Linked DNA regions of Homo sapiens: all the other regions are linked to region 3. Evidence: fine-mapped expression QTL. A gene starts in region 3. Each other region holds a variant in brackets. All regions are shown on one strand. Distances are from middle to middle.

Region 1 (10,295 bases), 18 kb after region 3:
TTGTATATGGTGTGAGATAACGTCCATCTTTAATCTTTTACATGGGCATGTCCAGTTTTCTCAACACCATTTGCTGAAGAGAGTATCGTTTTTCCATTGTGGAGTCTTGGCACCATTGTCAAAGATTGACCAGATACTTCCTGGGATCAAGTGATCCTCCCACCTCAGCCTCCCAAGTAGCTGGGACCACCAGAAGGTGACATCACACCTGGCTGATTTTTGTATGTTTTGTAGAGATGGGGTTTTGTCATGTTGCCCAAGCTGGTCTTGAACTCCTGAGCTCAAGCGTTCTGCCCATCTCGGCCTCCCAAGTGTTGTGATTACAGACATGAACCACCACGTCTAGCTCCCACATTTTTGTTATCTTATATTTTACATCCAGCTTGTTAGGTCTTCTGATACTTTTCTTTATCCTTAATGTTTTGTATTTTGCCATGTTACTGTGTATAAGTGTAGATTAAAAAAATACTGATTAGCAGTAGAGAGTTTTTTCAACCTAGAAAATAATATCTTGGAAAAATTTCAACCATTATTTATTTATTTATTTTGAGATGAAGTCTCACTGTATCACCCAGGCTGGAGTGCAGTGGCGAGATCTCGGCTCACCACAACCTCCGCCTCCCAGATTCAAGCCATTCTCCTGCCTAAGCCTCCCGAGTAGCTGGGATTACAGGTGCGTGCAACCATGCCCAGCTGATTTTTGTATTTCGAGTAGAGATGGGGTTTCACCATTGTTGGCCAGGGTGGTCTTGAACTCCTGACCTCATGATCCACCTGCCTTGGCCTCCCAAAATGCTGGCATTACAGGCATGAGCCACTGCCCCGGCCTCAACCATTACTTTTTAAAAAACATTTCCTTCACCTCTTCTATTTTTTCTTTCTGAAATTGCAATTATTTCACTGTTGGAACTATGTTCCCTACTTCTTAGTTCTTTTTTCCTCATTGTGTAATATCTTTTTTTTTTTTTTTTAATTGAGACAAGAGTCTCACTCTGTTGCGCAGGCTAGAGTGCAATAGCACGATCTCAGATCACTGCAACCTCCGCCTCCCGGGTTCAAGCAATTCTTCTGTCTCAGCCTCCCAAGTAGCTGGGACTACAGGCACATGCCACCACGCCCGGCTAATTTTTGTATTTTTGGTAGAGACGGGGTTTCACCATATTGGTCAGGCTGTTCTTGAACTCCTGACCTCAGGTGATCCACCCACCTCGGCCTCCCAGAGTGCTGGGATTACAGGCGTGAGCCACTGCGCCCAGCAGGTAATATCTTAATCTTTCTTTATACCGTGTTCTAGGTAATTTCTAATGCATAAGTTATCTCCTCATTTGTTGTTAGCTGGATGTTTATCCCATCTATTGATTTTAATTTTAGAGACCATTTTCTGTTTCCAAGATTTGCAGTAGATTCTTTTTATAAATGCCCGTGATCATTTAATTATCTTCTATTCTTCTTTTAGGATGTTAGTCCCACTTAAGTATATTTAGTATGCTCAAAGAGATAAAAAAAAAATTAAGATGTTTCATTTAAAAAACTGTCTTCAGGTGTAAATTCTATTTGCTCTGTCTGCTGATTGGTAGTAATTTTCCTAAAGTGTATTATAATTTTGGCTTGCAGGCTCACGTTGGATTGTTTTTTCCTGTGTGTGTTTTACCCTTTTTGTGTGGCTTTAGAGTTTACTCCACCTGTCCCTCTGGCTGACATAGCTCTAGGTCAGCTGTTTCATTAGGAATTTGGGTTTTTACTTAGTGAATAGCCCAGTTCTGGACCACACTACGTGTGTTATATGTGTTATGCAGGCCCAGTGTCTATTCTCAGGGTAACTCTGTTCCCGCCACATGTAGGTGTTGGGTGGAACTTTTTTTGGCCCAGTTCCAGCAAGGAGTCTGTTTCTGGTCTTCTGTCCCATCCATGGCATGCTGGATTTCTGGAGCTTTGTATCTTTAGCTACACTGTTTTTAGCTAAGTGCCCTTTTCCTGGGGGCTGCACGGCTTTAGTGCCCACTTAACCACTCTTAAGTTTGCCATCTGTTCCTGACCCACGAAGATCTTACTCTTGTTATTGAGTGTAGCTAAATATTTAAATTTTTGTCTAGTTTCTTGTATATCCATCTAGAGGTACTTTATGTTTATTAAGTAATAATGTGCTTATTTTCCTTTGTTTTGTATACAAAAGTTAGCATACTATATATCCTATTAGATTAGTTCGTTCTTGTTCTGCTGTAAAGAAATACCTGAGACTGGGTAATTTATAAAGAAAAGAGGTTTAAATTGGCTTATGGTTCTGCAGGCTGTACAGGAGCAGGCTGGGGAGGCCTCAGGAAACTTAAAATCATGGTGAAAGTGAAGGCAAAGCAGGTGCATCTTATGTGGCCAGAGCAGGGGGAGGGCAGAGAGGGAGAAGGTGCCACACACTTTTTTTTTTTAATCAGGCATTTATAAACAAAGCATACATTAATTACATAAAAATAGTTTTTGAATAACAGAGTAAACATCATATTGTCATTAGCAACAACATAGGACATGGGGCGGGATGCAGGGCTCTGGGTGGTTTTAAAGATAGAGGTGGATTCCCCCCCCCTTTTTTTTTTGGCAGGGCTCTGGGTGGTTTTAAAGGTAGAGGTAAGTCCAACACCCCCCCCTTTTTTTTTTTTTTTTTTTTGAGATAGGGTTTCGCTCTTGTTGCCCAGGCTGGAGTGCAATGGCGCAACCTCAGCTCACCACAACCTCTGCCTCCCAAGTTCAGGCAATTCTCCTGCCTCAGCCTCCTGAGTAGCTGGGATTACAGGCATGCGCCACCACACCCAGCTAATTTTGTATTTTTAGTAGAGATGGGGTTTCTCCATGTTGGTCAGGCTGGTCTCGAACTCTCGACCTCAGGTGATCCTTCCACCTTGGCCTCCCAAAGTGCTGGGATTACAGGTACGAGCTACTGTGCCTGGCCCTTTTTTTCCCTTAATTGAAAAAAAAAAAGAAAGAAATTATTTGTTACTCCTGACTTAAAGCAAGAACAAATGCCTCCCTGGACCCTGGTGGGCTGTGTAACAGGGCGGGTCAGAGAGGAGTGAGGAGGGCTCCGCACCCACTGGGAGGAGGGTGTCACATGGAAAACTGGCATAGGGGCTTCTTCTCCTCGTCTGTGCCACACACATTTTTAAACAACCAGATCTCAGGAGCACTTACTATCATGAGAGCAGCACTGAGGGGGAAATCCATCACCATGATTCAGTCACCTCCTACCAGGTCTTACCTCCAACACTGGGGATTTGGGTGGGGCCACAGACCCAAACCATATCACCTATACTTTGCTTTTCTTAATAAGATAGGGAGTATTTTTTTTTTTTTCTGAGAGACAGGGTCTTGCTCTGTCGCCCAGGTGGAGTACAGTGGTGCAGTCATAGCTCATGGTAGCTTCGACCTCTGGGCTCAAGCAGTCCTCCCACCTCAGTCTCCCTAGTAGCTGGGACTACGGGCATGCACCACCATGCTCAGGCTAATTAAAAAAAAAAATTTAAAGATGGGATCTTGCTTTGTTGCCCAGGCTGGTCTTGAACTCCTGGGCTCAAGTGATCCTCCCACCTTGGCCTCCCAGAATGCTGGGTTTACAGGCGTGAGCTACCATGCCCAGCCAAGATAGGAAGTATTTCCATTTGGTAAATCAGAGAGCTGGCGTGGAGATTTGGTTTCTTTGTTAAAGAGACCTGCTCATTTGACCTGCATAGTTTATCTTCATCACAACAAGTAAAGACTTTTTGTACTTTTGAATTTTTACATTGTTTTTTACATATAGTTTAAAAAATGTTTATACTCTCATTTTCTTTAATATAAAGATTAATCAGTTCTATAATTATGACCTTAACTTCCCCATGTCCTTTAAATTCTAATCATCCATTAAATTAAATTAATAATGTACCCACTGTTTATAGGTTCCTGAGAACTATATGCTTCTATGTCTTCTTTTATGGGACATTTAAAAATTTTTAATGGTAGCAAGCACTTACATACATTTACTATGTGCTAGGACAGAAGTACAGAACAAAAGAGGAGAAATTGTTTAGAGGCAGTGATAAGGAATCCATGTCACTGAGAAATATGAAAAGATGTTCAACTGCTAGCATTAGAATCAATAATAAACTGAAGTTTTAGTTCCTTCCATTTCTCAGACATGTGCTGCATTTCTTTCAGCTGTTTTTGGGGATGCAATGTAAAATAGTTTTGTTATAGCAGTAGCTTAAGGTGAGCTGTATTAGCATTTTCAGGGTTTAAACCCCTAAAATCTCAGGTAGGTATATATTATTTTCTTGAGAACCTACAAAAAAGTCTCATTTCAGTAATTTCAGAGCAGTGTAGAACTTATCCAATGTAGGAATTGGTCATTCAGTCTAAAATAATGGCTGGGCGCGATTGCTCACACCTGTAATCCCAGGACTTTGGGAGGCTGAGGTGGGCAGATCACTTGAGGTCAGGAATTTGAGACCAGCCTGGCCAACATGGCGAAACCCTGTCTCTACTAAAAATACAAAAAGTAGCCAGGTGTGGTGGCACACACCTGTAGTCCCAGCTACTGGGGATGCTGAGGCAGGAGAATCGATTGAACCTGGGAGGCAGAGGTTGCAGTGAGCCGAGATTGCGCCACTGCAGTCCACCCTGGGCGACAGAGCAAGACTCTGTCTCAAAAAAGTAAAATAAAATAGAATAAAATAGAATAGAATAAAATAAAATAAAAAAAAATAAAATAACAATAAGTATAGTTTTTGAGTGGCTGCTTTTTGCCAGTTGCTGTAGTAGGCACTGTAAGTCTAATAATAGTATACATTTACTGAGTTCTCGCTGTGTGCCAGGTGCTGCTTTTTTCATATTAATCTAATCTTCATAACAAGCCTGAGGAAAATCCTGTTATTCTTGTTTTACAAATCAGATAAGGATAAGTAGGATATCATGAAGTTGAGTAACTTGTTTAGAGTCAGAGGTTATAAGTAAGAGTTTATGATATAGTCTAGCACCAGAGATGTACTCTTAACATCAAATACTATACCTCCTATCTTCTTTAATTTTCACAGTAAGCCTATGAGGTAAGTATATAGAAAAGGAAACAGGCTTAGAGAGAATGTGTAACTTTCTCATGGTCTCTTGTTTCTGATCCCCATGAACCATACCATCAAACTCTTGCACTTAAGAAAATAGTCCTGTCTTTCTACAACTTCATCTTATAACTCTTACTGCTTTTTGTCTTATCTCCCAGGGCCATTTCTGAGCAGTGGAGGTTTCAAGTAATCCACTAACAACCAGTTCCAAATTCTGTCATCAAATCCTGTGCTGCTGTTCCTCGTGGTAAGTTTTCTTATGGACATAGTAAAACTTTAATATATTCTACTTCATAAATATCTTCATCTGTAGAAGGAACAAAGTATACTTTTGTGAACACATGATTGATTGGGCTTTACTGTTTTGCTACTGCTTTATCATACTGAGAAAATCAGAAGTTAAATATTTATATATTTGCCTGGCCAGACTTTTGAAAATATTTAGCCCAACAAATAAGATGCTTTACATCTATCAGCTCAGAGTCTGCTGTTATTTGTTATAATTTTATCTTTAGACCACATATTCAAGTACTAAATGGACAGACACAGTGGTATGTTTTAATAGAGTTAAATTAGAACTATTGCACATACATAAAGAACATTAGTGAACATTGTTTCTTAACTAAATTTTAAATGATTAGAATGTGATTATTAGATCAATTATAATATATTATACAGTAGTCTCCCTTTCTCCGTGGTTTTGCTTTCTGTGGTTTCAGTTATCTGCAGTCAACCAAGGTCTGAAAATATTTAGCAGAAAATTCCAGAAATAATTCATAAGTTTTAAATTTAGTGCTGTTCCGAATAGTGTGATGAAATCATACCCTGGACTTGGATCATCCCTTTGTCCAGCATATCTATGCTGTTTATGCTACCCACCCTTTAGTCACTTAGTAGCTGGTTGGTCATCGGATTTAAAAAAATAATATATATTAAGTTTGATAATATTTAGAGTTTCAGACATCCACTGGGGGTATTGGAGCATATTCCCCATAGATAAGGGAGGCTAATGTAACTACTGTTTACTGAATATCCTTTATAGGTCTGACATTATGCTTTACAAATATAATTCATGTGATCCTGTTAACAATCCTATAAGATAGATGGTAGTGTTGACATTTTATAGATGAAAAAACTGGTTACAGAAGTTGAGAATTTTATATTAGGTCACATATCTTGTAACTTGACAGAGCCAGCTTTCAAACCTAGGTATAGCTGTCTCAAACCTTTTGATTTTCTCATTTTACCATCTGATTATGTGTAGTGTTTCAATTTCGAC[C/G]ATGTAAGATGCTGAAGAGTGAAAAATCTAAAGGGTGTGCCTGTCTGTGCATTGTAGAGAATTACAGAAGCTGTATTCAAATATACTGAATTATCTAAATTTTTTTGTTTTTTGTTTTCAGGTAATAGATGCATATTATTTCTTTTATTTAAAAGAAATGAATGTGACTAGTATTGCATTAAGAGCTGAAACTTGGCTTTTAGCTGCATGGCATGTTAAAGTACCTCCGATGTGGCTGGAAGCTTGTATTAACTGGATTCAAGAAGAAAATAATAATGTTAACTTGAGTCAGGCCCAAATGAATAAACAAGTGTTTGAGCAGTGGCTCCTTACTGATCTGAGGGATTTGGAGCATCCTCTTTTACCCGATGGCATTTTAGAAATTCCAAAAGGAGAATTAAATGGATTTTATGCTCTGCAGATTAATTCCTTGGTTGATGTAAGTCAGCCTGCATACTCCCAGATACAGAAGTTGAGAGGAAAGAATACAACAAATGATCTAGTTACAGCTGAAGCACAAGTAACCCCAAAACCTTGGGAAGCAAAGCCTTCACGAATGTTGATGCTGCAGCTAACTGATGGAATCGTACAAATACAGGGAATGGAATATCAGCCTATTCCAATTCTTCATAGTGATCTTCCTCCAGGTACAAAAATTTTGATTTATGGAAATATATCTTTCCGTCTTGGTGTTCTCTTATTGAAACCAGAAAACGTGAAAGTGTTAGGAGGTGAAGTAGATGCTCTTTTAGAAGAATATGCCCAAGAAAAAGTACTTGCAAGATTAATAGGGGAACCTGATCTTGTAGTTTCAGTCATACCAAACAATTCTAACGAAAACATTCCCAGAGTTACAGATGTTCTAGATCCTGCATTAGGTCCTTCTGATGAAGAACTCTTGGCAAGTCTTGATGAAAATGATGAGCTTACAGCAAATAATGACACTTCCTCAGAACGATGTTTCACCACAGGTAGTTCCTCAAATACCATTCCCACAAGACAGTCAAGTTTTGAGCCAGAATTTGTTATTTCTCCAAGACCAAAAGAGGAACCATCAAACCTATCTATACATGTAATGGATGGAGAATTAGATGACTTTTCACTGGAGGAGGCCTTGCTTTTAGAAGAAACTGTCCAGAAAGAACAGATGGAAACTAAGGAATTGCAACCATTGACTTTTAACAGAAATGCCGATCGAAGTATAGAGAGATTTTCACATAATCCTAATACTACGAATAACTTTTCTTTGACTTGCAAAAATGGAAACAATAATTGGAGTGAAAAAAATGTATCTGAACAAATGACTAATGAAGACAAATCATTTGGTTGTCCATCTGTTAGAGACCAAAACAGGAGTATTTTTTCAGTTCATTGTAATGTACCCTTAGCCCATGATTTTACAAATAAAGAAAAGAACTTAGAGACAGATAATAAAATAAAACAAACCAGCAGTTCAGATAGCCATTCCTTAAATAATAAAATATTAAATAGAGAGGTGGTCAACTATGTACAGAAAAGGAATTCACAAATTTCTAATGAAAATGATTGTAATTTACAGAGTTGTTCTTTAAGATCATCAGAGAATAGCATTAATCTTTCTATTGCCATGGATTTGTATTCTCCACCCTTTGTCTATTTGTCTGTTCTAATGGCCAGCAAACCAAAGGAAGTTACAACAGTGAAAGTGAAAGCATTTATTGTAACCTTAACTGGAAATCTCTCAAGTTCTGGTGGTATTTGGAGTATAACTGCAAAGGTGTCTGATGGTACTGCATATCTAGATGTAGACTTTGTGGATGAAATACTTACTAGCTTGATAGGGTTCTCAGTACCAGAAATGAAACAGTCAAAAAAGGATCCTCTTCAATACCAAAAGTTCCTGGAAGGGTTGCAGAAATGTCAAAGAGATCTAATAGATTTGTGCTGTCTAATGACTATTTCATTTAATCCTTCCTTGTCTAAAGCAATGGTACTGGCATTACAAGATGTTAATATGGAACACCTTGAGAATCTAAAGAAGCGGTTAAATAAATAATTAAACTAAAATAGTATTAGGAACAATTAAAAACAACAAGGAAATATTTAGAATTTGTTCACAATTTTACTTATGATACTTTGTGTAAAAAGGAAAAATGAAATTTCATAGCTTATTTCAGTTTAATTTTAAAGTGTTTAATCATGTTTGTTATATGTGGAGCTTTTGAAAATAAGTTAATCTTTTTTTTTTTTTTTTTAATGTCAGGGTATTGCTCTGTTGCCCAGGCTAGAGTGCAGTGGCATGATCATAGGTTATTGCATCAACCTCTTGAGCTCAAGCGATCCTCCTGCCTTAGCCTCTTGAGTTGCTGGGACTATAGGCATGTACCACCATGCCCAGCTAATTTATAATTACTATTATTGTTTTGTAGGGACAGAGTTTTGCTATGTTGCCCAGATTGGTCTCAAACTCCTGGCCTCTCACTCCTGCCGTCATGGCCTCCAAAGTTTACTTTTTTTAAAAGTAACTGTTAGATGGAGGAATATGGTGACCCACTATTGTTGAGAAATTTGTTTTCCACTTGTCACGTCACATAAGATGATTGCTAAAATATTGTACTGGTGTTCGGTGGTGAGTCATATTTTTGAAAGTTAATAATTATAAATAGGTAATTTCCTTCTAATATGTTGGTACTGTCTATGGCCATACCACCCTGAACATGCCTGAGCTTGTCATAATATGTTGAGTACCCAAAAGATTTGTTTATATTGTTAATCTTAGGGAAAAAAAATTAAAATCCAGTAGATCAGAACATCAGGCTTTCAGATACAAATTGATTTACTGGTTTTTATTTTGCTGATTATAATATTTGGTATATTTAAGGTAATCTAGTTAACTAGATGCTATTTCATAGATTATATTGAATGATTTAAAACTTTATTTTCAAGGATAGTTTATTTTAAATGGCATATTGAAAACATCATTATTAAGATCCAGTAGGTAGGACATTTATTGGATTAAAATGAAGCATTTATCTATGTCTTTAGGTGTCATTGTTCCCTTTCTGAATTAGCTGTACATATAAGCCTTCCTTTGGTTTTAAGTACTGATTTTTTTTTAAAAAAAAGAGGGACTGTTTACCATTCTTCCACTGTGCTGTTATAAAGTTGTATTTGAAAGGTAATGTTGTTTTTATTAATCTTTTGTCTTAAAATAATTTAAAGTGCTTTGAATTTTAAAACATTAAACAAATCCTTAAATAACAAAATACATTGGTGTTTTATTTTATTGAAAATAATGTAACGAAATATCAGGAAGTAAGATAAATACATGTATGATGTATGATAATAGAAGTAGAAGAGAAAGATTTTAAAATATTTTCATTGTTGTATCAGGGTTCAAAGCACCAGGACACAGATATTGCTAATATATGCCCTAGTAATAATCTTGTCTATATACTTGCATAGCTTTTTAATAAGTGATCTGAATGGGATAGCTTTATCTTTCATTATCTTTTCATTAAATTTTCTCCTTCTATACTCTCATCTCTGTGAATGGGGCTTGAAAATTGGGATTAGAACTTCTTTTCATATTGTCATTAAAGACTGGCTATCGTACTTTTTATCAATCTATGCTACTATATTGGTTCTTGGTACATCCTGTTTCTAGTCTTCTCTGGCCTGGATTACTGCAGTGGTTTACTAATTGGTCTTTTATCTTATTTTGCCCTCAAACCGTACTCCATAATGTTAGCAGAGTGATCTTTCGAAAATAAGTTTCTTCTTGTTTTCTCTTCATTAACCTTTAATACCAACCTCCTCCCACCCCATTACTTATAGGGTGAAGTCCAAACTCCTCATTGAGTAAGTAAGGACTTTCGTGATCTGGCCCCTGACTTCTTTTTTAGCCTTATCTTGCCCCATTACTCTTTGCCTCTGAGTTTTAGGGGTACCAAGTT
Region 2 (10,295 bases), 270 kb after region 3:
AAATTATTAACAAGATATTTTACATTATTTCATGCTAAGACTTAAAGCAGATCTCAGATCTCAACTCAGGCTAGCCAACATGTCAGGCACTTAGTGGCCACATGTGACTAGTGGCTACCATACTGAACAGCACAGTTCTAGAGCCTTTTCCCTGGATTCTGAAATCCGAGGTCCCAGCTCAAGGTATCCCTCCAGAGCATCACTCTAGAGTAGCCCTGATTCCATCCAGTAGCAGTTTGTCTCTGTGTGAGTCTGTGTGTGTATATATGCCCACATATGTATGTGTGTATGTGTGTGGGGTTATTTCCATGAGCACTTATGCTATGCCTGTGGGAGGAAGCCTTGGCCGACATCTCAGATACCCCAGGAGACAAGGGACAGTTTTTGCAGGTGCTAGTTGTCTCCTCAGCAAAAACCAGCTTGCAAATTGGTCTCCTGCTAAAGATCCCTTATCACTGTGCCTGGATCTCTCAGCTTAAGCCACGAGCTATTTCCTTGACCTGTGGCTGCCTCTGGGTCTCCAAGGAGTTGGTTTGTAGGGAGACAATATTACCTTTTGATCTGCCATTGCTTGTACCTGCATTGGAGTCACCCCAGGATGGCAGCACCACTGTGGGGACAGTGTGTGAATGAGACTGAAAGAGGAATGACAAAACCATTGTGTTCCACCGAGGCAGAGCAAGAAACACCTTTGTTGTATCTTACTTGGGTCAGATTTTCAGGGGTGTTGCATGTCCTGTGGCTCTGCATTAGGTTGTGGGGAGGACGCACAGAGCAGCTGCAACTCTGGCAGACAGAGCTTGTTGTGAAGAGGACTGAGTCAAGGATATGTCTGTGATGAGACTCACATTTCATCCAAGGTGACAAGCATTCAGATCGCTCCTCCTGTCCTCTCCTAAAGCAAGATCCACAATGATCAGGTCACACAAGGAATGGGCCAGCATGGCTGCAGGGTAGGCAGCTAAGACATCTGTTTCATTTGTTGGCCTATTCTCTCTGTAGGGAGGAAACCCAGAGGAGAGTAGTGGGCACTGGATTCCTAACTCCTCATATAATGGCTGCTGAGAATATTAGATGTGCAAAAAGGTCACAGGAGACATATTGCACTTGCTAGAGGTTTTGCTGCTGTCACAAAGCAAGCAGAAACAAACCCTCCTGCCCTCCCCCTTCCCTGAAAAAGTATATGCTATTTGCCTCTGATTAGATTTCTTGGATAAATGACCCTTCACCTGGGCAAATAATCCCACTGTCCCCCTGCTTTTCTTGGGTCCCTGCTTCTGACTGTAATTCATTTATCTCTGGCACATGTTGTTTTGTATTTCTGATAAGACTCGGGTGAAAAATAGGGTGGCAGCTGAATTTATTGACGCAATTTGCTCATGTAATCTATGCTGTTGGTGATTCTGAAATGCATGCAAAGGCATTAGCCTCCTAATTATGGATTTTCATGTGATTGTTTGAAATGCAGATGGTCAGTCAGCTCCTGAGCTGGGGACCTCGATCTAGGGGTGGTGGTGGCGAAGTGCTGGCGATAGAACTATTACGACTGCAGAAAGAATGAGATGTTTAGTATTTATGGTCTGTTTTTTTCCTGGGTAGATATCGGGGAAGTTGTAAAACCCTTAAAGTCTACAAAGAGTCATACATAGTGCTGTAATACACTCTGTATCCATGGGGTATTAGTTCCAGGACCTCTGAGGATACAAAAATCCTTAGAAGTTCAAGTCTCTGATATAAAATGGCATAGTATTTGCATATAATCTATGCACATATTTTCATAAGCTTCAGATCATCTCTAGATTACTTATAATACCTAATACGATGTAAATCCTATATAAATAGTTGTTAGACTGTATTGTTTATTATTTGTAATAATTTTTGTTGTTGTATTGCTGTTTTTATTTTTATTTTTCTTGGATATTTTTGATCCAAGGCTGGCTGAATCTACAAATAAAGAACCTGGGCTACGTTGGGCCAACTGTAAATAAAACTTACTCATTAAACAGGGTATGGAAAATTTGACCAGGGAAGGTCTAGTCTTAATACCACTGTGCCCTTATTTTCAGCCAGCCATCTCCCCTAAGTTTTGGCTGTGTGTGTGTATGTGTGTGTTGGAGCATGTGTGGAGAAGTAGTAGTGTTCTCGAGAGGAGAAAAGTGTGAGAGCATGGAGCACTCTCACCTTGCATTTTGTTCTCATCCTTTCTTCTCAAGGAGCACTTATAGGCTTTGTGATGGTTAAACCCACAGGTAAAAGCGCTAGCCCTTTTCTAACATTAATGGGTTACTACAAGGCAAGGTGTGAGCTTACATTGGACATCATATTTTGAGAAATAATGAATGATGCTCTGGCTGGACTGTAGGGTTGAGGGATTCTTACAGAGAAGAGCTCAGTAGATTTTTTTCCCTCCGTCTAGGAAGAATGCCCACAGCTGCCACATTGCTACCTGCTTAGTGCAGCTTGTGGCTACTTGCAACTCGGCTCACAGTCACCCGTTTTCCGGGTATACCTAAAGCTCTTACTCGTGACCCTACTCTGTGACTTGGCATTCAAAGCCCTCCAGGATTTGGCTACAACTCTCTTTTATAAGCTCCTTTGCTTCTCTGCCCCTGCCTGCACCCTGTGCTCCAAGCAAGTTAAATGCCTCCCTCTTCCCTACACAGCCTCATCCTCCCCCACGTTGTGGCTTTGCTCGCGCCTGCTATGTTTGACAGTGACTCTGCTTTTCTACCTCCATGTGCCCAAATACTTTGTACTTTCAGGTTTAATGCATACCTCATCTCTCCATAAAACCATGCCTTATCCCTTCTATCTCAATGTTACCTCTTTCTCCTCTGAACTCTTATAATATTTTATCTGTCTCTCTCAGGACCACCTCTTACTCCTTTGGTTAGTTATTGATGTTCACGTCTCATTTCTCCCATTAGATTGTAAGTTTCTTGAGGGCAGGGCCCATATGAAATTTATCTGTCCCTCAAGTGGCATCCTGCACATAGTGGGTACCTAGCCACCATTTGTTGACTAAATGAATGAAAACAGCATTAATCAAAAGCTTTGGAGATTGACATTCTTGGAGAAATGTTGGTCAAAGTGCATTCCAAGGACCATTTACTTGGGGTGGGGACAGAAGCTTGTTGAAAATGCAGACTCATGGATCCTACTAAGATTTACCAGATCAGAGTCTGTGGAAGGTGAGGCCTGGAAATTTGTGCTTTAAATAAGATTCCTGAAAAGTCCGATGTTCAAAAGCCCATAGATTTGCAAAAAAATATTCAGTCCAGTTGGAGTCAGGCCCTTTAAGCTAAGCACATAGAAAGTGAGAACTAGGGGCTAGGGAAATGTTAGTCCACAGATACCAGAGAGGGCATTTGTATCAGCTTTAAAGCTGGAAAAGGGAAGTTGACATGAATATTAGTTATGATTTGTAGGAAGTCTGTCATCTAATGCAGAGAAGCCTTTGAAACATGCATTTCAGGGTAAACAGTTTATTATGTGTGTTGTCCATCCAACACTCTGTGTTGCCAAGGCTTGGTTCCAGATTCGGAAGAGACTCCTATTGGAAAATTCAAAGGCCATTGGTTTATTGAACAGAACTGGGAGCTCGCTTATTTATTTATTTATTTATTTATTATTATTTTTTTTTTTTGGAGACAGGGTCTCTCTCTGTCACCCAGGCTGGAGTGCAGTGGTGTGATCGTAGCTTACTGCAGCCTTGAATTTCTGGTCTCAAGCGATTCTCCTGCCTTAGCCTCCTGAGTAATTAGGACTACAGGCACATACTACCACACCTGGCTAATTAAAAAAAGTTTTTTTTTTAGTGATGGGATCTCACTATGTTGCCCAAGCTGGTCTCAAATTCCTGGTGTCAAGCTATCTTCCTGCCACAGCCTCTCAAAGCCCTGGGATTACAGTTGTGAGCCCTGTTCCCTGCCAGGAGTTCACTTATTAATTTAAAAAAATTTTAAGTAAGTAAATAAGAAAAATCAGCCAGGCTATAGAAGTCAGAGTGAAAAAAATTCAGCTTGGTCGCAAAAGAAAAAACACCATACAGCATCCAAGTGAATATTTTTAATGCTTATAAAATTTTAATAGGAAGTGTGAGATGGATTTTTGCAGGCTTTAGTTACTACAGCCAATTGGTAACTAAGGAAATACTCTATTCTTCCCTACTGATTTTTCCAGGTGATTTAAACCAAGGATAAAAGCCCTCAAGAATTTGTTTTTAAAGTAATATCTCTAGCTGTCTAGGGAGAAAGGAAATAAAATGAAAGTCACTCCTCTCTTTACATAAAAAACCTTTCCCTGAAGAAAAGTAGTGTGGTGGTCAGTGGTGTTAAGAAAAGGTAAAAATGGACAAGTATTTTTAAAATGACGGTATAACTAGGGTACTGCTAATATTTAGAAAGACAGACAATTATAACAGTTGAGCTGCAGAGAAAATGGCTCAATGTTCTATTTTCAGCTTTTCAACAGGTCAGAGTCATCTAATGAGGGCCGTGGCAGGGTGGCAGGCACACTTCCAGCCGAACTGGTTGTACAAGCTTCTTGTACTAAAAGCAGTCTAGAAGAACCTTCCT[A/G]GCATCGAAGCAGCAGGGAGAAGAGCCTGTAGGACCCATTTTTCTAAACACTGTGCTCTTCTTTTTCCTTTTAATTTTCAACTTGGTGTCCATTAGGAGATTTACCTGGCTGCATCATTCAGACGGTAGTTATTGAGTTTCCGCTTAGCCAAGGGCTGTGTTATGTATTTTCTCTGCCTCTCATGTCCTGAGCCAATTTGCCTTATCCAAGCACATCTCTGTTATTATTCTGGAAATTGGGCCATCCTGACAGTCTCAGACAGAGCCACCTCAGCTCTGATTTATTCTGCGAATGTCTTGCTTAAAGGCACAGAGGCAAACCTCTTCAGAGGTATATTTCTCCTGAGTATAAATGCAGTTGTATGTATAGGATTGACAAATTCAGGTTTTTTCCTGCTGTCTGAAATACGGTGCCCCTCTTACCTCAAAAAAGCAAACAGCACAACCTATACTGTGCATGGCTAACAAGACCACCAAATCACAGTGACAGTGGGTGCCTGATGGGATGTGTACCTGAGAGAGCCCCATCTGGGGTCCCCTATCTAGCACTGAACTCAGCAACCATAGCTCTATTAAACAACTTCACCTGCATGACGTCCTTATCACAGAATTGTTGTTCCCCAGGACCGAGACAGAGATTAAAGTAGGTAGGTGGGGAGATGGGATCAAGGTCCCTGCTGGTGTTTCGTTGCTGTGACAATATCCAACCCTATGGGATTGTAGCTCAAGTAGATACTTAGATCAGGCTCCTCTGAGGAAGATTACAGGCAGTTCTTATTTCTGGAGAACTTATATGTGTGAGCCTGGCATTATCACCTTGACTAATGAGTGTTAAAAGAGAAATCAGAATCCCTGAGGACCTCCCGAGAAGAGCTTTTCAGGAAAAAAAAAATGACACAACACCCGGTGCTGACTTTCCCAGTTGCTCAGTCTCCCTCGAGTCCTCGGGGCTTGTGATGTACACCAAGCTTCCGTAATGTCTATCAATTACTTTGGAAGGTAGAGGGCACCGTGAAAACTGTAACAGTGAGTCTTCCTTCCAGCTGTGAACACTAAGCAAATTCGTACCTTCACTCTTCCCCACTTACTCCTCCCTGGCTTTGATCTCAAACTGGTCCTGTCTGTTCTTTACTAGTTACTTATGGTATGGTTTTTGGATCAGGATACTGGCTACAAAGGTTTAAAGTCTGGAAAATAATTTGCCAAAGTAACACCCCAAAGGATACTTCCTGGATAGATAGATTAGACTATCATCTCCCTACCCAGTGGGCAATGGGAGCGTTACTAATGGTGAGCAACTGAGTGTGAAGTGTCTGCTGATGTGGGACAGTGTAAAGCATTCCACAGCTTTCCGGATGGATTCTAGCCTAGAAATGTTGGAATCTAATCCCTTGGATCTGATTTCCAGTTCACAGGGAATATAGAGATGGAAGAACAAGCTTAATAACTGAGGACCTGGGTGTGGTAGCTCCAGCCTGTGGTCCCAGCTACTTAGGAGGCTGGGGTGGGAAGATCATTTGAGTTTGGGAGGTGGAGGTTGCAGTGAGCCGAGACTGCACCACTGCACTCCAGCCTGGGTGACAGAGCAAGAAACAAAACAAACCAAACAGAAAACTTGTCTCAAAACAAAACAAAACAAACAACACCCCCCACCCCCAAAAAAACTGAACATCTAAGGAAGCAACAAGGCAAATAATTCCAGAGGCTGGGTCTTTAACTAGACAACTGGCCTAGACTCTTCAATCAGTGATGAGCAGTAAGAGACGAGTGTTCTAGATTTAAAGAGATTTTAAAAACATTACAACCAGATACAGCGTGTGGTCCTGGATTGGATGTGGTTTAGCTAAACTCCTAAAATAACAGATGTTTTGGGGACAATGGAGAAAATTGGAAAGGCATTAAATAAGAAGAAAATTGATTGACATGGAAAGATGACTGATTTTATATATGTATATATATATATACTTATAAGAGTATACCTGTATATGTATATATAAAATACATATATATGTACAGAGAGAAAGTGTGGGAGGATTTGCACATTGGGGTTAACTGTGGTAATCTTGGGGGAATAAGAATATGATGGTTTGATTTTCCTTTTTTTCTCATCAACACTTTCTAATTTTTTCTTTGTTTTTTGAGACAGAGTCTCGCTCTGTCGCCTAGGCTGGAGTGCAGTGGTGCAATCATGTCTTACTGTAGCCTCAACTTCCCGGGCTCAAGCAATCCTCCTGAGTAGCTGGGACTACAGATGTGTGCCACCATGTTTGGCTAATTTTTAAATTTTTTGTAGAGATGGGATCTCACTATATTGCCCAGGCTGATCTCAAACTCCTGGGCTTAAGTGATTCTCCCCCCTTCACCTCCCAAAGTGCTGGGATTGTAAGCATGAGCCACTGGGCCCAGTTAACATTTTCTAATTTTCTGATATTGAAAAGAGATTGCTTTCGTGATCACGAAAGATTCATTAAAAAAATATTTTTTAAAAGAAAAAAACCCAAAAAACAGGAAATACCTTTCCAGGCAGCAATAATGAAAAAGAGCCTTGAGGCGAGGTCAGCCCAGCTGCTAACAAAAGACGTGTGAACACCTCCTGCCAGGCCTAGGACTTACTAGGAAGACCCCAGCAGAGACCATAATTCCATAGCGTTGTAGCCCCACTTTTTTTCATTTTGAGGCGCAGGTGAACAATTTAAGATTTGTCACAATGTAATTGAATGTGCAGAGTGACTTCCCACTGATAGTGATTGCTGAAAAAGAGTAGGGGAGGGGATTGGGAGGGCGGTGCAGGTTTTCTGCTCAGGCCGATGCTGAGTCCTGGGTGGGAAGCACGGAGCAGGCCTCTTCTACGCGGGGTCTTGATAGCTCTGCTGATGACCGGGTAAACCCCATGGGGCCAGATTTTATCAGTGATGTATTTTCTTCACTGAGAAGAATATCATGTAAGAGGCAAATAAACGTCACACAGTTTTTGCAGACCCACCCAAACATAAAATGACATTTGTATGCTGAAATAATAACCAGAAATTTCTATGCTCTAACCAATGAGTCCTTTCTCCCAGGCAGATTAGAGACACTGGAGGATGAATCTGAATATTCAAATGAATGTCCACCCTGGTGTGTAGCAAGGGGGGAAGGGGCAGAACTGGCCAGGGGCTTCTCTGATCACGTTTTGATGATAAATGCAGGATAACGAAGAAATGAAAAGCAAAGAGAAGAACTAGAGGGGGAAAGAAGGCTCACTGCACAGTAACTTCAACCGTGATCGGCCGGGTCACATCTGCCCTGCGGGAGGGAGGTGAAAAGGCGGAGGGTACACTCTGTTCCTTAGTGAAATCGCTTAGGCACAAATCAGATCAGCTGGCCTGTCTGGCTGAGACCCAGGACCTAGAGGGACCAAATTGGCAGACCTGCTTTCCAATATGTAGGTAATCACATTATCATCATTGCTTGGGGTAAGACGGATGGTTTTTACAGAATAGCCCTGATTGTGAAAGGCTGTTTGTGGGTGTGTTTGGCAGAATATTTTATACCCTCAAGATGTGCAGTTTAAATTAGATGGTGAGAAAAACCTAAATGCATAAAAAATAGGACTATTAAGAGAGAAAACTGACGTTTGGCTCTTGTGAGGCTGTTTAACATCACATGCTCTAGGATCTCAATATCGATGTTCAGTATTGTCCATCTCAGCAGCAGGGTGATGTTAGATAACACGTTTGAACTGCTTTTTACCACTCTACTAAGTTTTTTTTTTTTTTTTTTTTTTTTTTGAGACAGTTTCACTCTTGTTGCCCAGGTTGGAGTGCAGTGGGGTGATCTTGGCTCACTGCAACCTCCGCCTCCCAGATTCAAGCGATTCTCCTGCCTCAGCCTCCCGAGTAGCTGGGATTACAGGCGCCTGCCACCATGCCTGGCTAATTTTTTGTATTGTTAGTAGAGATGGGGTTTCACCATGGTGGCCAGGCTGGTCTCGAACTCCTGACCTTGTGATCCACTTGCCTTGGCCTCCCAAAGTGCTGGGATTACAGGCATGAGCCACCGCACCTGGCCTCTATTAAGATATAAAGCTGTTAAATGGATTACCTTGAAAGACATGATTTTTGTACATTAAATATGGTCAAATAGCAGTAATTTCATATGATTTGATCTAATAATTGACCTTTCCTTTAGAAGAGCTTAGATGTGGGTTGAGAGACAGAAGAGTAGCTTATCAACAGACATAAAATTATTAAGAACTAGAATTAAGAGGCCTTTCTTTGAAGTCAGTAACACAAAGATTTGTTCATGCTCCTTAAGGTTTTTCCTTGACTGACTCCATGTGGGTGAATCTTTTTCTCTAGATGAAGCACACCGTCCAATGTTTAAGCCACAAGGGAAAATGAACCCAGTTACTATTTAATACATGCAACTCAGATTTATCCCAAAATATGATGATCTACCTTGACCCGCCACCTTTTTCCAAGAGTTGACACTGTAAGTTTTCTAGAAAAAACTCCACTCTCGCATGACCAAGATTTGTGTGTGTGATCAACATTTAGAAGAACGTGCTAAAGAAGACACTGAAGACAATTCCCAAACAAGAGTTAATATCTGAGCTGCGGCAGCATCCTTGCCACAAAAACGCAGCTCCCCAAGCAACACAGGGCTCACTTAGATGTGTAAGCTCTGGTTGTGTTTCTTTTAAAATCAGTCGCATTACTTTATAGTCACATCTTGTGAGAGAGGGCTCAGGGTCTCCAGCATCCCTGGAGAGGCATCTTCTTCCTTCTGCTTGAATTTTCCTCAATCTTCTATCCCGTTTGAATGGCTGTGACCTGTTAGGGATTTTATTTGATTTTTAGGGCTTTACTATTGTATTCATCTTGATGCTCCTCAGATAGTGTTTGTCCTAATCATTGTTTCTAGTACAAAGCCAAGTTGAACTGCTGGAATTATGGAGCAAAATACTGAACTGATATTTTCTTCCTTGTTATTGGCTTGCTGTTCTACAGGCTAAAGGAAAGTCATGACTTTCCAGGCACAGTTAAATAAATGGTCATAGTTAGTCCAAACTATCTTGAGAGATGACCAAAGTTTGGGTCTCAGTTCTGACCTAACTTGCTGTGTCATATTTGGCAAATTTATTAACCTCTGGCAACACCAGTTTCTTTCTTAAGAAAATGAAAGATTGAAATAGATAATCTCCCAGTTATTGTCTGATTCTAAAATAATACAAGTCTATATAAAACCTTGTATAAAGTTAGGCTGTTATTTAAATTATTGTATCATCCTTTAGACATTCACTTTTATGGAGAGGAAAAGAGAGAAGGTAGCTCAGAAATAGGTTGGTAGGAAAATTCAGGTTTTAAAAATGGTTGGTGGCATTTGAGTTGTATAGAAATAATTTAGATTTGAGTATTTTTTGAACATATAGTCTTTTTTTTTTTTTTTAAAGACAGGGTCTTACTGTGTCACCCAGGCTGGAGAGCAGTGGTGAGATCATGGCTCACTGCAGCCTAAACCTCCTAGGCTCAAGTGATCTTCCTGCACCAGCCTCCGGAGTCACTAGGACTATAGGCACATGCCACCATGCCCAGCTATTTTTTTTATTTTTTGTAGAGACGAGGTCTCACTGTGTTGCCCAGGCTGGTCTCAAACTCCTGGGCTCAAGTGATCCTCCTGTCTTGGCCTCCCAAAGTGCTGAGATTATAGGCATGAACCACTGTGCCTGGCTAGATA
Region 3 (10,223 bases):
ACAAAAAAATTTTTCTGGATTTAACCAGCCACCTGCAATGGTTTTCAGTAATACTGTAATTGATTCACACACAGGAAATGGTGCAATCAAGGATTTTTACACTTTGTCGCTATTTCTAATTAAGATGTTATCTTGCTTGATGAAGTGAATAATTTGGTGGACTCTTATTAAAATGTGAAGAGGTTTGAAAGAAACCACCCCCCCACCCTGCTCAATCTGGGCTTTTGTTAAAACAGGAATGGATAACTTCGAAATCAATTCTGTAATAATAAATTATTACAAATGTCTTTGTAGCTAAACTATGAAATGATTTCTAGGATGTAAATCTTTAAATTTCTATAGACATATAAACTGAAGCTGCTCGTGTAGTAGTTTAAACTCTTAATACTTACGTCTGTACGGAGAGCCTTAATATTCTTGCCTCCTTTTCCAATCACTGCCCCAGCATTCTGGAGAAGATACAAAGACAAAAAATTATTTTGCCTTTCCCTAAAATTAATAGCTACCTACGCTCTTAGATTTTGCTAAAAAATCCTCTAACCTGTTTGTTATAAGAATAAAAATCTATTTGGGGTTGTAAAAACGACCAGGCCAAAACCAAACCAAAAATCAAAATATAATTCTAAGTGCTGTGAGGACTAGATAGTTTGGAGTACTCAATGTCAGAAATAACACCAAGTATAAAATAAAACTAAGCACAGATTTTATAGCACCCTTTGGTAAAATAAGTCAATTAATTTAGTATTAGTAGGTACCTTCATATTGTGACCTGTGATCAAACAATAAACTGCCAACCAAGCAGTTTCCTAAGGAGTCCACACATAATTAAGATTTAATCTATTAACACTTTAAGAATCACACTCTCCTCCTAGTTTGACCTGTAGTGGCGGTTCACTACAGCAAGGGCTTTAATCTTAACTGTTAGTGGAATAAGAAAACCACCAGAGCCTTCAAGTCTGTTTAGAAAGAACCAAATGTTTTATATTCTTCAATCTGTAAAACTTTGACTTTCTAGAAAGCCAAACCAGACCTTAATTTCTACCTGAGTATGAACCACCTTCAAATTTTCAAGAATAAAATTTATACCTTGCTCTGAAGCAGAATGCGTAATTCAACCATCTCATCAGTGTTTCTAGATCTTTTAAATGCTTGTTCCTCTTCCATATCTTCTGCAGGGCGTTTACCTAAAAATTAACAGTTCACATTTCAAAGAAAGCAGCGAAGTCTCCAAAGTAACTCCATTCTGTTTCAAGAGACTTGTTGCTAATCTTAGGCATGTTTTGAAAAGACCAAAGGCATTGCTACAGACTTGAACGTTATGCTTCCATCTAGTAAAATGCACCAAACACAAAATACTGCCACAAAATACTTCAAAGGATTTGAAATCCCAAAATGCAAGAAAAATTCTTTATATGCAAATCAGTTACTTCTACTTCATAAATAAAAGCTAAGATGTAACTACTGATAATCGCAGAATTACATAAACAGTAATACCAAAAATTCACCACACACTCCTAAGGCAATAATTAACAGAAAAAGGCAATTTATTAACAGGATAAAAAAATACTGTTAAAACTAAAATTTCTTCTCACCAAATTCACCATTGGTTTCAGTGTTAGGGAAGGTTTCTTCTGGCTGTTCAGTTTCCATATTCTTTTATTAAACGGGCACACCAATCTGTGGAAAAATAAAGCAGCTAGTACATTTGGCTTATTGGAAAGCAAGCTGTAAAAAAAAAAAAAAAAAAAAGACATTGCTTCTAGAACGTACCAGTTATTATATATCCTTGCAGAGCAGAACTGAAGCGTTCTGGGTCGGACCAACAACTGACACCCCAGTGCTGCAGTAGCCTATAAGAACCAACACAAATCAGTTTTGCTTTTGTTTATTCTTATTACTGAATATTTGTTTCCGATCACAGTGAATACTGATTTGAACCCAAAAAACCAGCTGTTTCTAAAACTTGATTCTTCATTTTAGGGTTTCACAATTCAAATGACTGCCTAAAAAATACAAAATTCAAGGGAGCCTGGTTTCATTTTTTGCTAAGTTAGAACAATAACTTTTAGCCACTGGATTAAGTCCCACCACAGCAATGAATTGTTTTATACGGCACATTCCCAAAACCCTGAAAAGATAAATGTCATCCACAAAGCATACATTTATGAAAAGTTACAATGCATCTTATTCACTGGGAAAACTAATTTTATATTAAAACTTCCAATTGCTTTCCTATTTCTTTCGACTCATGCTTGAAGCGATCTTATGTGACATCTCTAAAGTTTACAAATACAACGGCAATTGCGAACACATCCAACAACCAGAACAATCTACCGGAGGGATAAATCCAAAAATCTAATATAGGACCAGACCCAAACTACCACAATACCAGTCTATTATTAATCAGCGAAACAAATGGAGCCCTTGAAAACTAACAGTCACTAGCGGATTATTTTAAATTAGGCTTAAGGGAGTACAACACAACAATCATGCCTGTAACACGAAAACTAAAGTGTCTACGTGCCAAAACGGTCGATAGGACTACAAACAGCCTTTTTAAGCTTCCCTCTTGTCGGGACTAGGAGTTGACAAGCGGCCTCTACTAGAAGGTTGGCTAGACAGCAAAGAGCCAACAAGCGAGGCACATTTATGCCTCCCATTCTCCCATACCGTTGGTCGACTTATTGCTCTCCTAACGACAACTGAAACGACATCCTTCCGGCCCAGCACGCAATTTCTGAGGTGTGGTGGGAGAAGAGTTGGATAAGAAAGTTTAAGCAAAAACAGCAGGGCTTATCTGTAAGAATAACGTTGCCGCTTGCCGTTCACCCTTCGGGTCCTGCAGTCACTAGTCCCCAGGCCTCAAAAATCCGCTAAGTATGTGCTCCACTGGCCGAGCGCCAACGCGCCCTCCCCTCCCCGCCTCCCGGCACCGAGATCAAAAACAGCCGGGTAACAGGACGGGAAAAAGCGAAAGTCGACAGCAGAAGCACCGCACCTCTCCTCACCCGGATCCGACAGGAAATGGCGGCCCGCGTAATGGCGACTACGTGCTACTAGGCGGAGCCGAGCGCCGACCCCCTCCCCCACCCACCACGCGGTCCCGAGGTCTCATCCCCCGCATCCTCCCCCCACTGCCCGAGACAAAGCCATCGAGGCAGCCCTGACCGTTCCATCCCCGCCGCTCCAGCTCCGACCCCGGGCCGGGAGACCCAAGGTGAGGCGGGGCTCACACAAAGAGAGCGGCGGCGCGACCTTCTCCCCGCACCGGCCTCCTTTCCTCCACGAGGTCCCTAGTTCCCAGTGCCACATAGCTCCAGCTCATCCTAGAGGCACATGCCTCACGAATCCCCAAGTCTCTAGGACCACAACGCGGACTGCGGATACACGCTCAGGGAAATGGCGGAGGTGGGGGAGGGGACACCGGGCAACGTTCCCACTCGGAGAAGCGGCCAAACACCAAAGCGGCTCCCAGGACGCCTCCCTCAAGCGGAAAAACTGGGCTCCGACCCTCACCTCCACGAGCCGCTCCCCCAACCCGGCTCCTCACCGCGCGAGACTGCCGTCCCTCCGCTGCCGCGCCGCCTCAGCCGGTCGGAGCTAGACAGAAAACGAGCGCAGGCTCCCCTCCCCCGCCTTCTCGCGTCCTCCCCGCCGTCGCGCCCTATTGGCTGCCAGGGCTTCAGCGATGGTGCGAGGGCGAAGCGATTGGCCCGAGGCCACGTCAATCAAGGCGACGGAGGAGGCGACAACCCCGCCTCCCGCCAGCGCCTCCCTTCGGGCTGGGAGGCCACTAAGGGCTCGAGAAAACCCGGGCTTGGGAAAAGTAAACGCAGCCTTTCAGGGAGCCCCAACCCTTACCCGAATCAGCAATACCCAAGCTCCAATAACTCCAATTACCTATAGGCCGCGAACAAGTGGGACACAGGCAAGACGTCGAGGTCGGTGCAGCAGAGAAACAGAGGATAATGGCGTCTGCAGTGCTGTCGCCTGGAGCGCCCTCCTCCTTTCTCGTTCGCGCACTCACTAGCTGGGGGGAGGGGCGGCTAGGGGGCGAACCTCTCGCGAGATCTAACAACTGCCTAGTTCACGCGCACAGGGAGGGGGCGGGGAAGGGGCGTTTTCCAGCCCCGAAGGAGTCCTTTGGGGTTGGAGGAGGGGCGCGAGCGCGCGGCAAATCGGGCGGGAAGAGGTAAAAAAGGAACTGGGAGCGCGCCGCGGCGGTTCCTGTCCTTACAGTTGCGCTGCCCAGGGACCGATGTTGCGCGAGGAAAATGCGGGACGCCCAGGTCGGTGCTCGGCCCAGACTTATGCCCGTGTTTTCACAGCCCACACTCGTGCCCGAAGCCCCTTACCCCGCCCCGGGCTGTGGTCTGTGGGCTGTGGGACGAGCTGCGGCGCGGTAAGTGCGGGCCGTCTGCGTCCGCTGGGCCGGGCCCACGCTTCGGAAACCCGTTGTTTGTAATGGTCCGGGGCGCCCGTCAGTCAAGGCCGGGCCCGGGGGCGCAGCTGGCGGTTCTCGGCCTGCCTTGCGCCGGGGCGGGAGCCGGGGAAACGCGGGGCGAGCCTGGGAGTACTGGAGAACTTCTCGCCGAGAGGGCACAGGCGGTTTCACAGGGCTCTCGGTTCTGAGACTTTCCTCTTGGGTAATGGGACCTGAGATGGAAGTATTTTGTAGTGTCGTCGCTGTAGTTTATTCCGATAAAATTTTTAGGCAATATGTATTGCCCTTGTCTCCTAAAATGAATGCGTATCGCTGAATACGTTGCAGACCTCCACGTTCCATTCAAAGCGCCTGCCTTGTGGCAGTGATGAAAACAGACAAAAACCCTTGCCCTCAAACGTGCTCCTGTTCTAGCGGGTTCAGCGCACACTTGCATTGTATTCGGTTCCTTACTTTTAAGGCTCCTGTGCCAAGCTTTCATGACTTCCTTTGTTAAGGCACATAAGGTCACTTTCAATCGGTGACAGCCCTGGGAAATCTCCAGCCCTGGTAGTACCCGCTTTCCACATCCTTACTCGTCAACCTTCCAGCCTCCGCCCACAATCCCAAACTCATTTTGAAGCATAAAGGTGTCATAATCTGCACATAAAGCGAAATCCACCATTGGCCGAATACATGCATATATTTTAGTGTTGATGAATTTGTGCTGATTCATTCCTGTTATAATGTTTCCTTCTTGGGTAATTTGCAAAACATATATACCAGCATTCTTTTAAATGGCCATGATTGCATCCACCCAGCATCTTTTACTTGACTGATTAGAGGAAAACTCTTGTTAGGGCGCACTGAGGATTTCATGACAAACACCAGTATTTACATTCTGGGAGGATACGTTAACACATGCTGTTAGAACATAATGTCCGGGATTGTGGAATTTATAAAAGTTCTCTTTAAGTGATAATATAATTTTTTAAATGGTCCCCACCATGAAGAGTGTATAGTCTTGTTGGGTAGGTAAAACTTAACTCGCATTTCAGTTCTAAAACACAAAGTTCAGAATTTTATTAAATATTCAAAACTGATGAGTTTATGTAGGGGCTTAGGATACTTGGATTATAGAGATTTAATCCGCCAGTTAGTATTTGCAACATTTAATTGAGTTTGTCATTTAAAACCTGAGACATGTCACTGACACTAATATGCACAAATAGCGGTACGGTAATGATGATGCTGTGCTTTCTTTCAAATTAGGATTTATGTTGCAGTCATCATTTTCTTGATAAGGAATGATGAGTGGGAATCACAAGTAAGCAGCCCTATATAAGAACCTCTTCCGGCCGGGCACGGTGGCTCACGCCTGTAATCCCAGCACTTTGGGAGGCCGAGGCGGGCGGACCACAAGGTCAGGAGATCGAGACCATCCTGGCTAACATTGTGAAACCCCGTCTCTACTAAAAAGACAAAAAAAAAAATTAGCCGGGTGTGGTTGCAGGAGCCTGTAGTCCCAGCTACTCAGGAGGCCGAGGCAGGAGAATGGCGTGAACCCGGAAGGCTGATCTTGCAGTGAGCCGAGATCGCGCCACTGCACTCCAGCCTGGGCGACAGAGCGAGACCCTGTCTCAAAAACAAAAACAAAAACAAAAAAAAAAACCTCTTCCTCCCAGTTTCATTGTCCAGACTGGACCCCGACTGGTGTAAATTATTCATCCCCTCTAGATGCCATTGTGGGATGGTTGCTATTTTTCCCCCCATTTGATTTCTTCTTTACGTCTTTTTAATTTTTAGGTTTGCTCTTTAAATAACAGGAAAGTCTTTTTTCTCCATCCTTTTATTCTCTGTTTGAAATTAAGACTTTTCAACCCAATAATTTTATACCTGTGTTCATTCAAGAACTTAACAATACATTCATTGACTCCAGTCTTGTGTAATTGGTACAATGGTGTAATGGTGTAGTGATCACTTTGGACTCAGTGAATTTAGACCCAATATTACTTAGATGGGGGATTTACTTTAGATGGGCTAATATAATTGAGAATGTACACTATCCAGCTGCATTATTGTTTAAAATAGTATTTATAACTACTATTTCCTGAGTTCCCCACTGTGTGCTAAACGTTGTGCTGGCAGTTTAATACTTTTTAGAGTTCTTTGAGCAAGTTGTTAGTTATCTTTGTTTTGTGAACGAATGAACTAGCACTAAGAGAAGCTAAGGAACATATCCAAGGTCACATAGCAAAATGGGGTTCCAGATTCTCTTTCTGTCTTTTCCTTACTTTAGGTTATGGAGGATCCATAAAAATCTCCTCTGATTACTTCTTCTAATTTCAGTCATATACGGTATAAATTTTTCCTCCCTAATTTTCGGAGTATCTTCTCAAAAATTCCAGGATTACCTTGAACTCATCCTCAATGAATTAAAATGTAGACTTACCTTTATTGTTTAGATGAAGATAATGGAACTGTGGAGTAGATTTAAATATTCGTTAGTGCTTTTAAGTCTCAGCTATTGTCAGAATGACACACGTAAGGTCCAAAAGGATGACACTCCTGCCTCGCTTTTTATTAAAAAAAAATTGGAATATATGAGGCTGACTGAAAATTAATCTGTAAATCAAATATGCCTAGACCTTCGTGGTAGGTGATAAAATTTTCCCACTTTATTTTCTTTTGTTCAGTTCCTGGCAGTACAGATCTAGAATGCAGATTAGTGTGGTCAGCCAAGTTTATCATTCATACAATGCTAATCAGCTTTCTTAAAAATGTTTTTTCCTGATTATAAAATTAATGGGGATTAAGCTGTATGTAATTTTATATGTGTTCTTTTTCCCAACAAAATGTGAATGTATTTCTTTGTCATTAAATAATTCTTAAAAATGGTTTCTTTAAAGATTTCATAGCTTTTCATTTCATGGTGGTAGTGCTATGTATTTAACTTTTTTTCCCATTTTGAACATTTTGTTTTTTTCAAAATATAAAAACTCAGTGGTAAACTCTCTGCCACATAAATCTTTGTCTTTATTTATTTTGTTACTTATTGATGCATAAAAGATGTACATAGTTTTGGGGTATATGTGATAATTTAATATATTCACTTAATTTGTAAAGATCAAATCACAGTACCGGGGATATTATCTCCTTAAATATATGGCTTTTCTTTGTCCTTATTTATGATTATGTCCTTAATTCTGGAAAGTAAAAGAAGTGGATAATATGGTATGAACATACCTTTTTTTTTTTTTTGAGACTGAGTTTCGTTCTTGTTGCCTATGCTGGAGTGCAGTGGCGCAATCTCGGCTCACTGCAACCTCTGCTTCCTGGGTTCAAACGATTCTCCTGCCTCAGCCTCCCGAGTAGCTGGGATTACAGGCATGTGCTACCAAGCTCGGCTAATTTTTTTGTATTTTTAGTAGAGATGGGGTTTCTCCATGTTGGTCAGGCTGGTCTGGATCTCCTGACCTCAGGTGATCCACCCGCCTTGGCCTACCAAAGTGCTGGGATTACCAGTTTTGAACATCTTTTTTTCTTTTCTTTTGAGACAAAGTTTCGTTCTTGTTGCCCAGGCTGTAGTGCAATGGCACAATCTCGGCTCACTGCAACCTCTGCCTCCTTGGTTCAAACGATTCTTCTGTCTCAGCCTCCCTAGTAGCTGGGATTACAGGCATGCGCCACCAGGCTCAGCTAATTTTTTTGTATTTTTAGTAGAGACGGGCTTCTCCATGTTGGTCAGGCTGGTCTTGAACTCCTGACCTCAGGTGATCCACCTGCCTCAGCCTCCCAAAGTGCTGGAATTACAGCTGTGAGCCACCGCACCCAGCCCGAACATATCTTACTGTATAATTTAAAAGACAGTTTTCCAAATTTATTATTATTTTCTTGGACAGTGGAGTTCTTTAGGATCAGGAGCTGTTCTTTGCACATGGGAATTTGTGCTGCCCTTGCTAACCTCTGCCTCTGAGCTGCTTCTACCTGCTTGTGACTATGGTTACCCAATTTCCTAAGCAAAGAAGGGATGAAAACCTTAGGAATTATCTGAAGGACTAGATGCCATTAATATAATTTACCAAATTATTAAAGGTCTCAATTATTAATATCCAGTCTAAACTTTATAATATAGATCTTACATAATATTTTTCCATTTGATTAAACATTTTAATAAGCTTCTCTTTCTAATCTGTAGGAAAAATAACCTATTACACATCATCTTTTTATTATAATTAAGACATGCAGTTGTAGGAATTATATCTGTATCCTAGATCAATCCTACTTTCTACTTTGTTGTTAAGTGATGAAATCTGTGTAACAGATGTATGTTAGCAGTTATTTTATTTCCCCTAAAGTTCTTGACTTTTTGGTAAAATATTTGAGAATAGTTGTATTGGAATGCTTGTACAGTGTTAAGTATCTCTTATCACATTTGCTTGTGTTTTACAGGTGTCTTGGTTATCTTTTGGGTGTTTAGTCAATGGAATTTTTTTCTTTGCCCAGTTATGATAACATTACTGTAAATTCATAGTATGTCAGCTTCAGAAGTTGAGAGTGGTTCTTAGAGTTATTAATTAGGACTGACACATTTAATGGAACAGTTTAGTTGTTGGGGTTCACTGAGCAGTGTTTTTCAGAATTCATCCCAACTCTTGGCTGAAAGGAGTTTTGCCACTTGCGGTGTTCAGTAGCACATACGGCCGGGCGCGGTGGCTCACGCCTGTAATCCCAGCACTTTGGGAGGCCGAGGCGGGTGGATCACGAGGTCAGGAGATCAAGACCATCCTGGCTAACACGGGGAAACCCCGTCTCTACTAAAAATACAAAAAAATTAGCCGGGCATGGTGGCAGGAGCCTGTAGTCCCAGCTACTTGGGAGGCTGAGGCAGGAGAATGGCAGGAACCCGGCAGGCTGAGTTTGCAGTGAGGCGAGATTGCACCACCGCACTCCAGCCTGGGCGACAGAGCAAGACTCCAAAAAAAACCCACCAAAACAATAGCATATACCAGGAAGAGCAAGTTTGGAATTAAAAAAAAATTAAAAAATAAACTGATACATAAGCCTTAGAATATCAGTTTGTAATATTCAAAAAATGTAAAAATTATTTTATGTGCTATGTTAGTAGGGTTATAGCAAAAGGAAAAGTAGTACTTAACCGCAGCACTATGTCGAAGCTATCACAAAGATAAATATAGTAGGTGTAGGTGATATTTTTAAGTTTTTCTTTCATTTGATTTTGTAAATGAAACAATTTAGAATGCATTAGATGGGCTTGTTATTTACGTGAGATCTGAGAATTCTGTTCATTATAGTAGCAGCAAACCACTCTTATAGAATGGCCGTTTATATGTGGATTTTATACATAAGTGGGTTTTATAGATGAATTGAGGGACTGGTTTTACTTCCTCTTTCCACTTAAGTTGACAGAAAAAGGTAAAAGAATGGAGATTAGCAGAATTTATGTTCTAGTTCTGGGTCTGCTGTTGGGTATGATATGTATGCCTTAATCTTCATGCCTCAGTTTCATCATTGTCAAAAATAGATGAGAATACTCTTTCTATCAAAAAATTACTGTTTTGAGGTTTAGATAACATTGTAGATGTAGAAGTACATTTTTTATTGATATCTTTAAAAAAATTTTAAGTCTTACAAAATAGGTTTTAATTTATTTTCAGCAAAGTCTTCACTTCTCTGTTTATACATCTGTACCTGCTGGGAAATATAGGATTAATATCTCTGAAATTCATTCTTGTTTATTTTCTGTCCAGCCTTGACCTTTTCAGTTCATAACCAATCA

The links. PIP is the estimated chance that this variant, and not a neighbour inherited with it, causes the effect. A credible set is the group of variants that fine-mapping cannot tell apart.
Region 1: its variant is the best candidate, but not a certain one, in a credible set for the expression of RMI1 in spleen (GTEx, PIP 0.85).
Region 2: its variant is the best candidate, but not a certain one, in a credible set for the expression of RMI1 in thyroid (GTEx, PIP 0.75).

The regions. Positions count from the first base shown.
Region 1 is chr9:83,994,470-84,004,764 of GRCh38, forward strand. It overlaps RMI1 (RecQ mediated genome instability 1), which reads left to right. Exons shown (of 3, transcript NM_001358291.2): 2 at 5,240-5,328; 3 at 6,482-9,605. The coding sequence starts at 6,518. The coding sequence ends at 8,395. Among named protein-coding and RNA genes, the nearest start is that of RMI1, 19 kb to the left of the region's middle. The variant C/G (reference allele first, on the strand shown) is at 6,361.
Region 2 is chr9:84,250,633-84,260,927 of GRCh38, forward strand. No RefSeq gene overlaps it. Among named protein-coding and RNA genes, the nearest start is that of SLC28A3-AS1, 22 kb to the right of the region's middle. The variant A/G (reference allele first, on the strand shown) is at 4,578.
Region 3 is chr9:83,976,603-83,986,825 of GRCh38, forward strand. It overlaps RMI1 (RecQ mediated genome instability 1), which reads left to right and starts at 4,203. Exons shown (of 3, transcript NM_001358291.2): 1 at 4,203-4,289. HNRNPK (heterogeneous nuclear ribonucleoprotein K) reads right to left here and starts at 3,613. Exons shown (of 17, transcript NM_031263.4): 1 at 3,551-3,613; 2 at 1,771-1,850; 3 at 1,593-1,677; 4 at 1,087-1,184; 5 at 393-449. The coding sequence starts at 1,650. RefSeq lists enhancers at 2,887-3,046, 3,867-3,916, 3,876-4,383, 3,957-4,016, 4,147-4,216 and 2 more and silencers at 3,587-3,726, 4,537-4,616.